3 linked regions of the Homo sapiens genome follow. The protein of the gene in region 1 interacts with the protein of each later gene in a pairwise test. Each region holds a gene or a part of one and is shown in the gene's direction. Other genes may lie near its edges.

What was found.
Region 2: the proteins of CRIP1 (region 1) and SH3GL3 interact in a two-hybrid assay, tested with the Homo sapiens proteins (one large-scale study listed by BioGRID and IntAct).
Region 3: the proteins of CRIP1 (region 1) and VOPP1 interact in a two-hybrid assay, tested with the Homo sapiens proteins (one large-scale study listed by IntAct).

What each region holds. Positions count from the first base shown.
Region 1 is NC_000014.9:105,485,343-105,489,088, forward strand, and holds CRIP1 (cysteine-rich protein 1), read left to right. Parts: upstream 1-1,543; 5' UTR 1,544-1,630; intron 1,631-1,856; 5' UTR 1,857-1,917; coding exon 1,918-1,957; intron 1,958-2,823; coding exon 2,824-2,918; intron 2,919-2,988; coding exon 2,989-3,046; intron 3,047-3,128; coding exon 3,129-3,169; 3' UTR 3,170-3,174; intron 3,175-3,320; 3' UTR 3,321-3,605; downstream 3,606-3,746. UniProt on the Homo sapiens protein: Seems to have a role in zinc absorption and may function as an intracellular zinc transport protein.
Region 2 is NC_000015.10:83,565,817-83,569,462, forward strand, and holds part of SH3GL3 (endophilin-A3), read left to right. Parts: intron 1-2,712; coding exon 2,713-2,856; intron 2,857-3,646. UniProt on the Homo sapiens protein: Implicated in endocytosis. May recruit other proteins to membranes with high curvature.
Region 3 is NC_000007.14:55,485,358-55,489,003, reverse strand, and holds part of VOPP1 (WW domain binding protein VOPP1 isoform 1 precursor), read left to right. Parts: intron 1-3,646. UniProt on the Homo sapiens protein: Increases the transcriptional activity of NFKB1 by facilitating its nuclear translocation, DNA-binding and associated apoptotic response, when overexpressed. May sequester WWOX in lysosomal vesicles and thereby regulate WWOX role as tumor suppressor.

The sequences.
Region 1 (3,746 bases):
TTGGTGCCTCTGCCTCTCCCTCTGCTTGTCTGCAGGTTTGTCCCACGATGCCCCACACTCAGTGGAGATGGCAGGTGGGCCCAGACCTCAGAGTGGGTTTCAAGGCTCATGGGCTGGAGAGTGGGGGTTCCAAGTTTGCAGGACAGGAGCGCACCCCTACTCTGGAAACCTTATCTCTGAGGTCTCAGAATGGGGGATGAGGAGGGCTCCAATGGGCCCCTGTGGAATGTCCTATCAGACCCCAGGACTTAGCCCCAGTCGGGGGACAGAACTGTGGCCTTAGAGGGGCGCCAGGAGGAGGGCAAGCAGGATGTGGCCTTGGGCTGGGTGTGCTGGTGTGGGGCTCTCTGGAGTGTGGCCTCTGTGCCAGACGCCTGTGCCTTGGCCGTCCTACAGCCCTGCTGCCCCTGCCCTCTCCCCAAGCTGGGGACTGGTGGCAGACAGGGCAGGGCAGGCGGCTTCTCTTCCTCTAAGTGCAGGCCTCGAGGTGCCGACAGGGGTGCGGTAGGATTCAGGGAAAGTGAGGTTGGGATCACAGGTGCAGTTAGGGCTCAGGGCCCGACAGCGGTAGGCCAGCGGCTCCTGGGGCCCAGGAGGATGGTCTCCAGCGCCCCCAGCGGGGACAGGGCCAGCACAGGCCCAGTGGAGATCGAGGGGAGATAAGGACGCTGGTTAACATGGCTGACAGGAGGGATGGTGGGTGGGGAGGAAGGGCAGCACCGCCCTTGTGCTGTGGGAGCTCCCAGGGAGCTCCATGCAGCATGGAGGTGAAGGGCCTGCAGAGAGAGGGCTCCCCTGCTCAGTGACAGGAGAGGGGGCTGACAGTGACCTGGGCTCCCTTCCTGAGGCTGGCCAGTCAGCTAGAGGGCTGACCCCAAAGCCCGAGGCCAGCGCAGCCCCCTTGGCCCTCCTGAATCTGGGGGGCGGGTGAGGCGGGACAGACTCCGCCTGGCACCGGGACCATCCTCCGCCTCAACTTTGCAGCGTACTTGGACCGCTCTGGCCGCCCTGGGCGCTACCCGCAGAGATAAGGGCCCCTCCCTGCGCCCGGTCCGGGCATCTCCGAGCCGGCCTGGGGGTGGCTGAACTCTCTTTTGCCGGCCGAAACCCCAGCCCCCGCAGCCCCCGCAGCCGATCGGTCCTCAAGCTACAGCTCCCCTCTCTGGGAGTCCCCGCTTTTGAATTCCCCGGGGATGTTCCCGCTGCGGTCCGATGGACCTCCCAGAGCAGCGGAGGTCAGGGGAGCTAGCAGAGGCGGGGACGTCCCTTGGGAGTGAGGGGACTGACAGGGGCGGCCTCGTAACCCTGCGTGGGATGGAAGGTCAGAGTGGGTTCCTCGGTGGGGGGCAACAGCGGGGGCTCTCCGGCAATTGTCCCCGACCCTCCGTCCTGGGGAGGGCAGGATCAGCGCGCGGGCTGCTTTGCATCTCTTTGCATTTTAGTGATGTTTGGTCCAGTCCTGGCCCGGGCAGATCTGGGGTTCGGGCGGGTGCCGGTGGGGTAGGGCTGGGGGTGGGAGCGGCGTTTCCTGCTGCGGGTGAGCCTTTTGCCTCGGAACTGGACCCGGGAGACATCACAGCGCTGGGCTAGGGGCGCGGCTTGAACTCGCCTAAAGAGCTGCGCCCTCTCAGTAAGTCCCCATGGCCCCCTGCCCCCCCGCGCTCCGTCCTCAGTCAGGCCCGGGTCCTGCCTGAAGGCGGGGGTGGACCAGATGATCTTTCTTGGGCCCTGGGCCTAGATTCGAGGTCCCCAGGGTCCAAGTCCTGGGTTCAGAGGGCGGGGCGCGAGGGGCGGGGTCTCCAAGGGGCGGGGTCCCGGGGTCCCTGAAAGGCGCGGACCAGGCCGGATCCACCCAGTCTCGCGCCTGCAGCCCGTGCCGCCCCAGCCGCTGCCGCCTGCACCGGACCCGGAGCCGTCATGCCCAAGTGTCCCAAGTGCAACAAGGAGGTGTACTTCGGTGAGCGCGCCCACACCGGCCCCGCGAGGAGGCGCCGCCGACGGGGCGACGAGGCTGGGGACCGCTCAGGAGGACCGGGGGCGCTGGGTCCCTGGGGCGGCGCCCCAGCCTGAAAACGCCTCAGCCTGGCCCGCCGCCTGCCCCGGGATGAGGGTGGAGGCCCCTGCGTCCGAGGGCCCTGGCGATCTCTGCCTGCTAGTGGTCTTGCTGTGCTCGGCGGGCTACCTCTGGCTCTGAGCCTCCCCGTCTCTGGGTCCTACGGTCTCTGCCGTTTCCTCTCAGGCGCGCCCTGAGTGGGGGACCCGCAGGGCTGGAAGGAACGCGGGGCTGGGGCCGCGCCCCCCAGCGCTAAGTGGAAACAGACGCGGAAACCGACGCCCGGGGCGCGATCCCGGGCGCCCGCCTCCCTGCCCCGCGCCCGCGCGCCCCGAGGGGAGGGAGGAAGTGGGAAGTCACCCCTGTCCCCGCCGAGAAGGGCTGTCGCAGGCTCCACCCTTGCCACCGCAGAGGCCCGGGGCTGAAAGCAGGCAGCCAGGCCCAGGCCCTGCTGACCTAAGCCGCGACCCCTGACCCTCGGCCTCGCCCTCTAGCCCCACCCAGCCTTCAGGAGCAAGATTCCCGGCCGCACCCGAAAGTGCCCCGGGGACCAGCGACCCCGCGCTTTGTTTAGTTGTATTGGCTCTGGGGATTGGAGATGTTCCCCTCATGGAGGGTGCTGAGACCTTAGGGTGGGCTGCCAGGCTGGGCGGATGCGGGCTAAGTGCACAGGGCCTTGGGCAGAGCTGGCTGCAAGAGGCGGGTACGCCAGTGGTGGGTAGGCGCCGCGTCCTGCAGCGTCTCACCGGGGCCTGTCTGTGCCTCTGCAGCCGAGAGGGTGACCTCTCTGGGCAAGGACTGGCATCGGCCCTGCCTGAAGTGCGAGAAATGTGGGAAGACGCTGACCTCTGGGGGCCACGCTGAGGTAGGTGGGACCCACCCTGGTGGCAGGGGCCAGGGGTGATGGCACCCCCTCACGGCCCTTCTCTTTGCAGCACGAAGGCAAACCCTACTGCAACCACCCCTGCTACGCAGCCATGTTTGGGCCTAAAGGTATGCTCCCGTCATCCCCACCCCACCCCACCCCACAGCCTCCTCCACCCCAGCCTGTTGACTTTTTCCACCTTCTCTGCAGGCTTTGGGCGGGGCGGAGCCGAGAGCCACACTTTCAAGTAAACCAGGTAGGTAGGACCCCACCCCCTATCCTGCCTCCTGGTTCCACCCTCGGGATGGGGATGCCCCCTCCCAGGGAGGCCTGACCACTCGTGGGCCCCAAAGGAGGCCGTGGACGCTGCACTCACGTCTGTGCCTGTCTCTCTCTGCACAGGTGGTGGAGACCCCATCCTTGGCTGCTTGCAGGGCCACTGTCCAGGCAAATGCCAGGCCTTGTCCCCAGATGCCCAGGGCTCCCTTGTTGCCCCTAATGCTCTCAGTAAACCTGAACACTTGGAAAACCTGTGTGTGTACATGCGCGTGTGTGCTGGGGAGTGCCAAGGGAGCTGCAGTGGGGTCCTGGCAGCAGGCTCTGCCACCGGCGCCTGCTCTTCTGCTGCCCATTGCCCTCCCCAGGGGGCCGTTCCAGGGTCTCATAGGCGAGGGCTCCCTGTGCAGGGTGAGTCCAGGCCACCCTAGACAGCCCGCACCCAGCCCTGGCACTCTGAGTCCGCCTCGACAACTCCCAGATCCTCAGAAGTGCCTCTGAGCCCTCCTGGCCTTCTGGGAGTGGGGAAGGGGGGCTTTGCAGGCCACCAGC
Region 2 (3,646 bases), on another chromosome or scaffold:
TTTTAGGAATTTATTATCTGCGTAGAGTTCCTGTGATTCCCTTGACTGTAGGAATCAGCACAAACCTAACCATTTGAAAATTGAGAAAGTAAAAATTTAAGAATATAAATTTTATCAGGTGTATCCAGGCAGGTCTAAAGTTCTTTACAATTGTATTGATGATAATAGCTTTGAAAACCATAAAAATATATCTTCTCCTCCCTGGCCACATCAGTGATTGAAATCAGCCACACAAATTTCTTTTCCTGATATATCAGTCAACAAATATTTAATATGTGCTTTCTCTGCACTAGAGGATTTCGGGGTGCTGGAGTACACTATGAAATCAGACAGATACTTCACCCTCAACCAGCTGACTCTTGAATGGGATAAGGAAGTGTTGGCCAACAATAAAAGTGTCACCACTGGCTAGAGGTCTCTGGTTATTCCTAGAGAAGAGGCAGCCCTAGCAACCTCTTATCCAGTTTAATGGCTCTCACCCACATACCTGCTGCATCCCACATCCCCCTCCAACAGTGGGAAAGATGGGCAGAGAGAGAGAGAGAGAGAGTGTGTGTGTGTGTGTGTGTGTGTGTGTGTGTGTGTGTGTGTAGTGTGTGAGAGTGAAGCCTTTGGGCTTGGGGACCTGGAGGATAAATGCTTTGAGGATAAATGTGAGGTTCAAAAGTCCGGCACTGGCCAGGCACAATGGCTTATGCCTGTAATCCCAGCACTTTGGGAGGCCAAGGCATGATGATTGCTTGAAGCCAAGAGTTCAAGACCAGCCTGGGCAATGTAGCAAGACTCTATGTCTACAAAACATTTTCAAAATTAGCCAGGTGTGGTAACACGTCTGTAGTCCTATTTTTACTCAGGAGGCTGAGGTGGGAGGATCGCTTGAACCCATGAGTTTGTGGCCACAGTGAGCCATGATCATACCACTGCACTACAGCCTGGGCAACAGTTGTTGTTTCAAAACAACAACAAAAAAGGCTGGCACTGTGAATGTCAGGTGAATGTGAGTGGCACTCACAGCTGGCACGGGAATGTCACTACTCACAGTGCATTCTATTGCTGGAGATGCAGAATTAGGCTCAACCCAGACCGATGGAATCACTCTACATTTTAACAAGATCCTTGGGTTATTTACATACACATTAAAGTTTTGGAGGCATTGATTTAAAATACATTAAAAATAGTACAAAATTATTAAAGTAGGAAAAAAAGTGTATCTCTTGACTATCTAAAAGTATCTCAAATACCACAAACTAGTATGTGATTCACTCTCTCACCTACAGGATGAAATCTCAAATCCTTAGCTTGGTGTTCAATTCATAGTCACATTTTCCCATAGCTATCTCCCACTTTGTCCTGTATTAATAGCATTTTAGGTCAAACCAGCCTACTCCTTGTCCACTGATTATGCCACAGTATTCCCTCTTCTACACGTTACTGACACCATTCTCTGTACTTTTTAGGGCATCTTTCCATCTTTCTTCAGCATATTGCCGCCTTTCCCTTGCCCTGCACCACACTGGACTTTATTTTCATAATTATGTCCTGTATATTCTGCCTCCCAGTAACTAGACTTTGAGCTCCTTGAGGGCAAAGCCTGTCTCTGGAGTCCCAGTAATGAGCACAGTGTGTTGTTGCACAGGGCCCAGTGCAACAATGAGTAAATACTCATTGCCTGAGTCAGAGGAAGGAAAGGAAGGTAAGACGCAGTGATGCGCATCACCTCCCTAGGGAGCAGAGGCTGAGCTGCACCTTGGGACCAGCCACACAAGGCTAGTGTTCACTAGGGGTGGGGTGGTCTGTCCCCTCCTATGATTCTGCCTCCTAAACAGCAGCACCTGCCTGCCATAATACTGAAAATCATTAGGCTCAATCAGTCCTTGGGAGCAGAGTGTGTGTGTGTGTGCGTGCGCGCGCATGTGGTGTGTGTTAATGACCAGTTGGTTGTTTGAAATATCCTCCTCGGCAATTCTATTTTTGTTTACATTTAAACAAACAAACAAAAAGCATGTCAGTGTCACACAGGTGTCAGTGTCTGACTTCACGTGTCAGCAACTGCAAGCTTTCCAAAGGGTCTCACTCGAGGGGTGGTGCTCAGGAAAGCCTGGTCACTATTATTTCAAGTCAGCAATGTGCCCCATCATTTCTTTTTTTTTTTCTTTCTTTCTTTCTTTCTTTTTTTTTTTTTTGAGACAAAGTCTCGCTCTTGTCCCCCAGGCTAGAGTGCAATGGCGCGATCTTGGCTCACTGCAACCTCCGCCTCCCGGGTTCAAGCAATTCTCCTGCCTCAGCCTCCCGAGTAGCTAGGATTACAGGCATGTGCCACCACGCCCAGCTAATTTTTTGTATTTTTAGTAGAGACAGGGTTTCTCCATGTTGGTCAGGCTGGTCTTGAACTCCTGGCCTCAGGTGATCTGCCGGCCTCGGCCTCCCAAAGTGTTGGGATTACAGGTGTGAGCCACTGCGCCCAGCCGATGTGCACCATCATTTCTATGGTTCATCGTGGCTGCGGAACAGTGCACTTAGCACCCACCTTGGTAAAGAACCTAGAAAATTACCTGAGAAAATTAAATAGTTCACACACAATTGTTTCAGGCCTCAGGTCTCTGGCATTTTGTTTAAGGTGACCTCAGTTTTGGCAGCTGCGTTTATTAAATTCTATGTACCTGTCACTCCACCTTGTAACTTTAAAGAATTACAAATGACAATGTTTTTAAGCATACAGAGCTAAGCTAGGAATGCTGAACACTGTGTCGAAGATCCGAGGGCAGGTGAAGACCACAGGATACCCGCAGACGGAAGGCTTGCTGGGGGACTGTATGCTGAAATACGGGAAGGAGCTCGGGGAAGACTCCACCTTTGGTGAGTTATTCAGAGATCAGCTGGGGGAGCTGAGAACTCCTCCAGTATGGTTTTAGGTTATACACAAACCCTTCAGTCTAACAACCTTTGTTATTTTTCCATATTACCAAAGTAATACATGTTAATTGCAGGAGGTTTAGAAAACATAGGTAAGTAAAATAAAGAAAAATGCTAACATCACCCATAATCCCATATCCACCGATAGGCCCAATTAAACTCTGTTGTGTATCTTTTTTTTTTTTTTTTTTTTAGACAAAGTCTATGCCCAGGCTGGAGTGCAGTGGCGCGATCTTGGCTCACTGCAGCCTCCACCTCCCAGGTTCAAACGATTCTCGTGCCTTAGCCTCCCGAGTAGCTGGATTACAGGCTCAAGCCACCATGCCTGACTAATGTTTTGTATTTTAAATAGAGACAGGGTTTCGCCATTTTGGCCAGGCTGGTTTTGAACTCCTGACCTCAAGTGATCCGCCTGCCTCGGCCTCCCAAACTGCTGGGATTACAGGAGTGAGCCACTGCACTTGGCTTGTTGTGTATCTTTTATGCCTTGTTTATTCTTATATGTATTCATATGTACTTTTAAAAACTACAGTAAGGCTATAGTACATATACTCTTTGGTAACACTGACTATATAATGATCCATATCGTAAAATAATTAATCTTCCATGATATTGTTTTTAATGGCTACATAATATTCCATGTATCATAGTTTGTTCAGTCAATCCCATTTACTAAATAAATGTTTCTTTATGTAAAAACATTTTACATAGCATTTACAATAACCATTTTCAT
Region 3 (3,646 bases), on another chromosome or scaffold:
ATCTGTGGCATGGGCCCTGGGGGCGTGGGGACTGAGAGGAGGGCCACACAGAGTTTGGCAGTCCAGGGAGAGAGAGGAGCCGAGGAATCCCAATGTCCCATGTGGTCCACAGGGTAAATGTCATGCCTGAGGCTGTCCGGGCAGTGCCAAGGTGTGCAGGCATCTGCACAAAGCAGGGTGGGTGTTAGTGAATTTTCAGCAGAGCCCCATTTTTCCTCTGCTGGTCTGAGAGGGGAAGTGGGTTCAGGCGTGGGATGCCTGTTAATGAAGATGAAAAAGCAGAGGGATTTAGAGGACCCAGACTCACCCACTGGGGCAGGGGGGGCAGTGGCTCATATTCTGGGGTGTAGGGGGGCTCGCATGGCGCTCCTGCTGGGACCAGCATCACTGATGAGCATGGGAAAGCAGAGAATCTGTGCATTGCAAAGAGGCTTCTGGTCGGGGAGGGGAGGAAATTGGCAGCATTGTGGTCCTGGGGGTTGGTGTGGGTTGGGGCAGAACTCTGAACGTGGTGGAAAGGGGCTGGCAAAGTCAGCAGGAGGCTGAGGTTCAGAGGTGGGGCTCCAGGCCAGCCCAGGAACCAGGACCCAAAGGCTGCAGCTGCTGGCCGAAGGGCTCAGGGCCTGGCCGGGTTGTGCAGAGGCTGGAAAGTGGGAGGAGTGTGGAGTAGCTGTGGTTTGAGGAAGAGGCCCTGGTCAGGGAGTTAAGAGGCCTGAGGTCTGTGAGACCCAGGGTAGGCCACGGTCCCTTCTAAACCTCAGCACCTTAACTGCAAAATGAAACGGTGTGCAGAAAAGCACTCCTCATTCTGTGTAATCTATGCATATAGTGTCAGCCAAGATGCAGCAGCAGCAGAAAGAGCTCCCTAAATGCCCAACCCCAAATCCTTCCCCATCAGGATGCTGGCAGGGTCCCACCAATATGTTTTCCTGGGTAGAGAGGAAAAAATTGTCTTCATTCATTTATTCACTCACTCTGAAAACATGAGCTAACTAGCTCCAGCCACTGTGTTCACACAGGTGGAGGGTGTGGGTGAGAATCCTCCCTGCTCTTTAGGAACTGTAGAACGGTGGAGAAAATGTAAAAGCCTAGGCTGAGGCAGCACTGTAGGCCTGGGGGAAGGAAGGGCTGGCTGGCTGGCTGGCAGGAGGTGGCCTCAGCTGAGTGTGGTGCCCCTGTGATTGAATGTGGCAAGGGGGTGGTTAAGGGAGCTCCAAAGAAAACGATGATTGAATTATGGTCCATCTTCTTTGTGGAATATTATGTGGCCATTAAAGTTCATAGTCAAGATCAAGACAATTTGCTGGTACGGCAAGACCATCAAGGTGCAGTTAGGGAAGAGAGCATTGGATAGTGTTTTTTGTGAAATGGTCATGAGGCTAGCCAGGCCCAGTGACATACACCTGTAGTCCCAGCCAGTCAGAATGCTGAAGTGAGAGGATGGTTTGAGGCCAAGAGCTCAAGACTGTAGTGTACTGTGATTAAGCCTGTGAATAGCCACTGTCCTCCAGCCTGGGCAACATAGCTTGACCCTGCCTCTAAAAAATGGTCATGAGTTCAACTATGGAATTCCACAGATACATAGAGAGAGATTGCGGAGGACAGTCAGTGAAATCTGTGGTGTTAATGTGATTCAAGTTTTCTTTAAAAATGATTTCCTTTAATGTGACTGAAGTGGATGGAGTTTTCCCATCGACAGATAGTTTTCTTCCTTTCCAGCAGCCATTTGTGGTGAGTTCATTTATAGGTTTCTGACTGTTCATTCTCATGTCTCAATCCTGTAATAAGTCTGTCAGCCTGCAGTGACTAAATGACACCAACTGCAAGAAAATGGAAATAGTAGGGAGGGTGTTTTGACAGTTTAATTACCCTCAAGTCATAGCCCAAGCACAAACAGGGCTGCTTCGGTTGTGAGGACATCTGGCTTCAGAACTGGTGGAATAAGCGTCATTCTTTTCCAACGTGACGGTGCTTCTGACGTGCGGGGATGGTGATGGGACAGCCTTACAGGCCACCTCTCCCCGGTCTCCAGCCCCTGGGGCTCCAGCATTTCCATTCTGGGTTTTTTCCTGAAGAAACAGCAGGGCAGATGGACCCAGGGTGTGTGGCCTTGGGGGGTTTGTAAGGGTCTGTTGCATTGTGGGGTCTCACACTCATTGCCTGCCCTGTGCTGCCCTGGGCAGCTGCCTTCAGGATAGAGATTTTTGAGTTTATGGTTTTGCTGAAAGAAATTAACTGGAAATACTTTTTTGTTTACAAATCACCAATGCCAATCTATTCATACATTCTCATGGCTACCAGAATATTCCTTACCTGTTCATCCCTGATGGCAGAAGGAAACTGGTTGATCAGGGTCAGGGTGAGGGGGTGTGGGTGTGGGAACTGTCTTACTTGGTGACGCCCAGGAATTGAGATGGCCTCCCAATATGGCGGGCCTCCTCACCAGCAGGAATGTGTTTCCACAAAGTCCTCCAGCTCTGTGCATCTGACATTCTGTCTCTGTCTCCGTTATTCTTACGCGGCACTTCTCTTTCCAGCCCCCGTGCTGCCCCTCCCCTCCCTGTGACCTCTGCCTTGCTATTATGGTTTGCACAGCCCAGTTTGCATAAAGTGGATACATCTAGAATGTTCTGCCATACAAAAGCAGCAGCTGTTTTTTTATCCATGTGAAAGCATTTAATGTCCTTAGCCACTATAAATTATGACAGATAACACACTTTGCACAGACTGTATTTCAAGAAGAATTTTTTACAGCCTGCCCTGTTGGTAGGCAATTCCTGTTGTTACATTACTCACAACAAAGCTTGCACATCTATGATCTTTGATCAGTGGGAACAGAAACTTACAGCAGATTTAAGTCCCTTGCCCACTGTCCTCTGCTTCGCCAGTGATGGGGCTGAGGTGGAGCCGGAGCCTCTGGCCCGTCGTGGTCCACTCATGGGTGCCTGCATCTGGAGGGACACACTGCACGTACCAAGGGTCTCCCTCACATTTGCTCACGCAAGCTCTGGGTCTGACAGGTCCCCCGCCCGCCTCGCTGGCTGCATTCCTCTCCCCGTGGGAAGCAGAGCCTCCTTCAGATCCCTTGTCTCCCGAGTCTACCATTGCACTTTTCTCCCTAAATGTATTAATATTTGAAATGGCTGCGTCCGGCCCTTCCGAGGGGCGGATGAGGGAAAATGTGGGCCAAACAAGACTGGAGGTCCCTTGTTGCAATGAGGTCTGCAGCCCCACGTGAGGTCCCTGTGCCTAACACGTCCAACCTGCCGTCTGTCACTAAGTGCTCTGTGAATGTACTGTGTGCACGTCCCGTGTGCGGGCGCCCTGTGTGGGCCCTGTGTGGCGTCACAGTGCAGCCACAGGACAGCCGGGGTTATGAGGCAGCTGTCCCCGGCCTGCAGCTCTGGGATGAGGACAGGGCGACAGTGACTTCCGACCTCCTCTCATAGAAAAACGTGGGTGCTGCACCACCCAAAGTGAAAGGCTGAATTTGGAAGTCCCTTTTATCATACACATTCAGATTGCCTGTGGAAATTCAGCAAAAATATGACATGCATTTCCATTCTATCTGCCTTTTACCTTCTCAACCTTAAATCGACTTTCAGTTCTGTGTCATGTTTTCTCTTCTTTTTAGAAGACTTCTAAT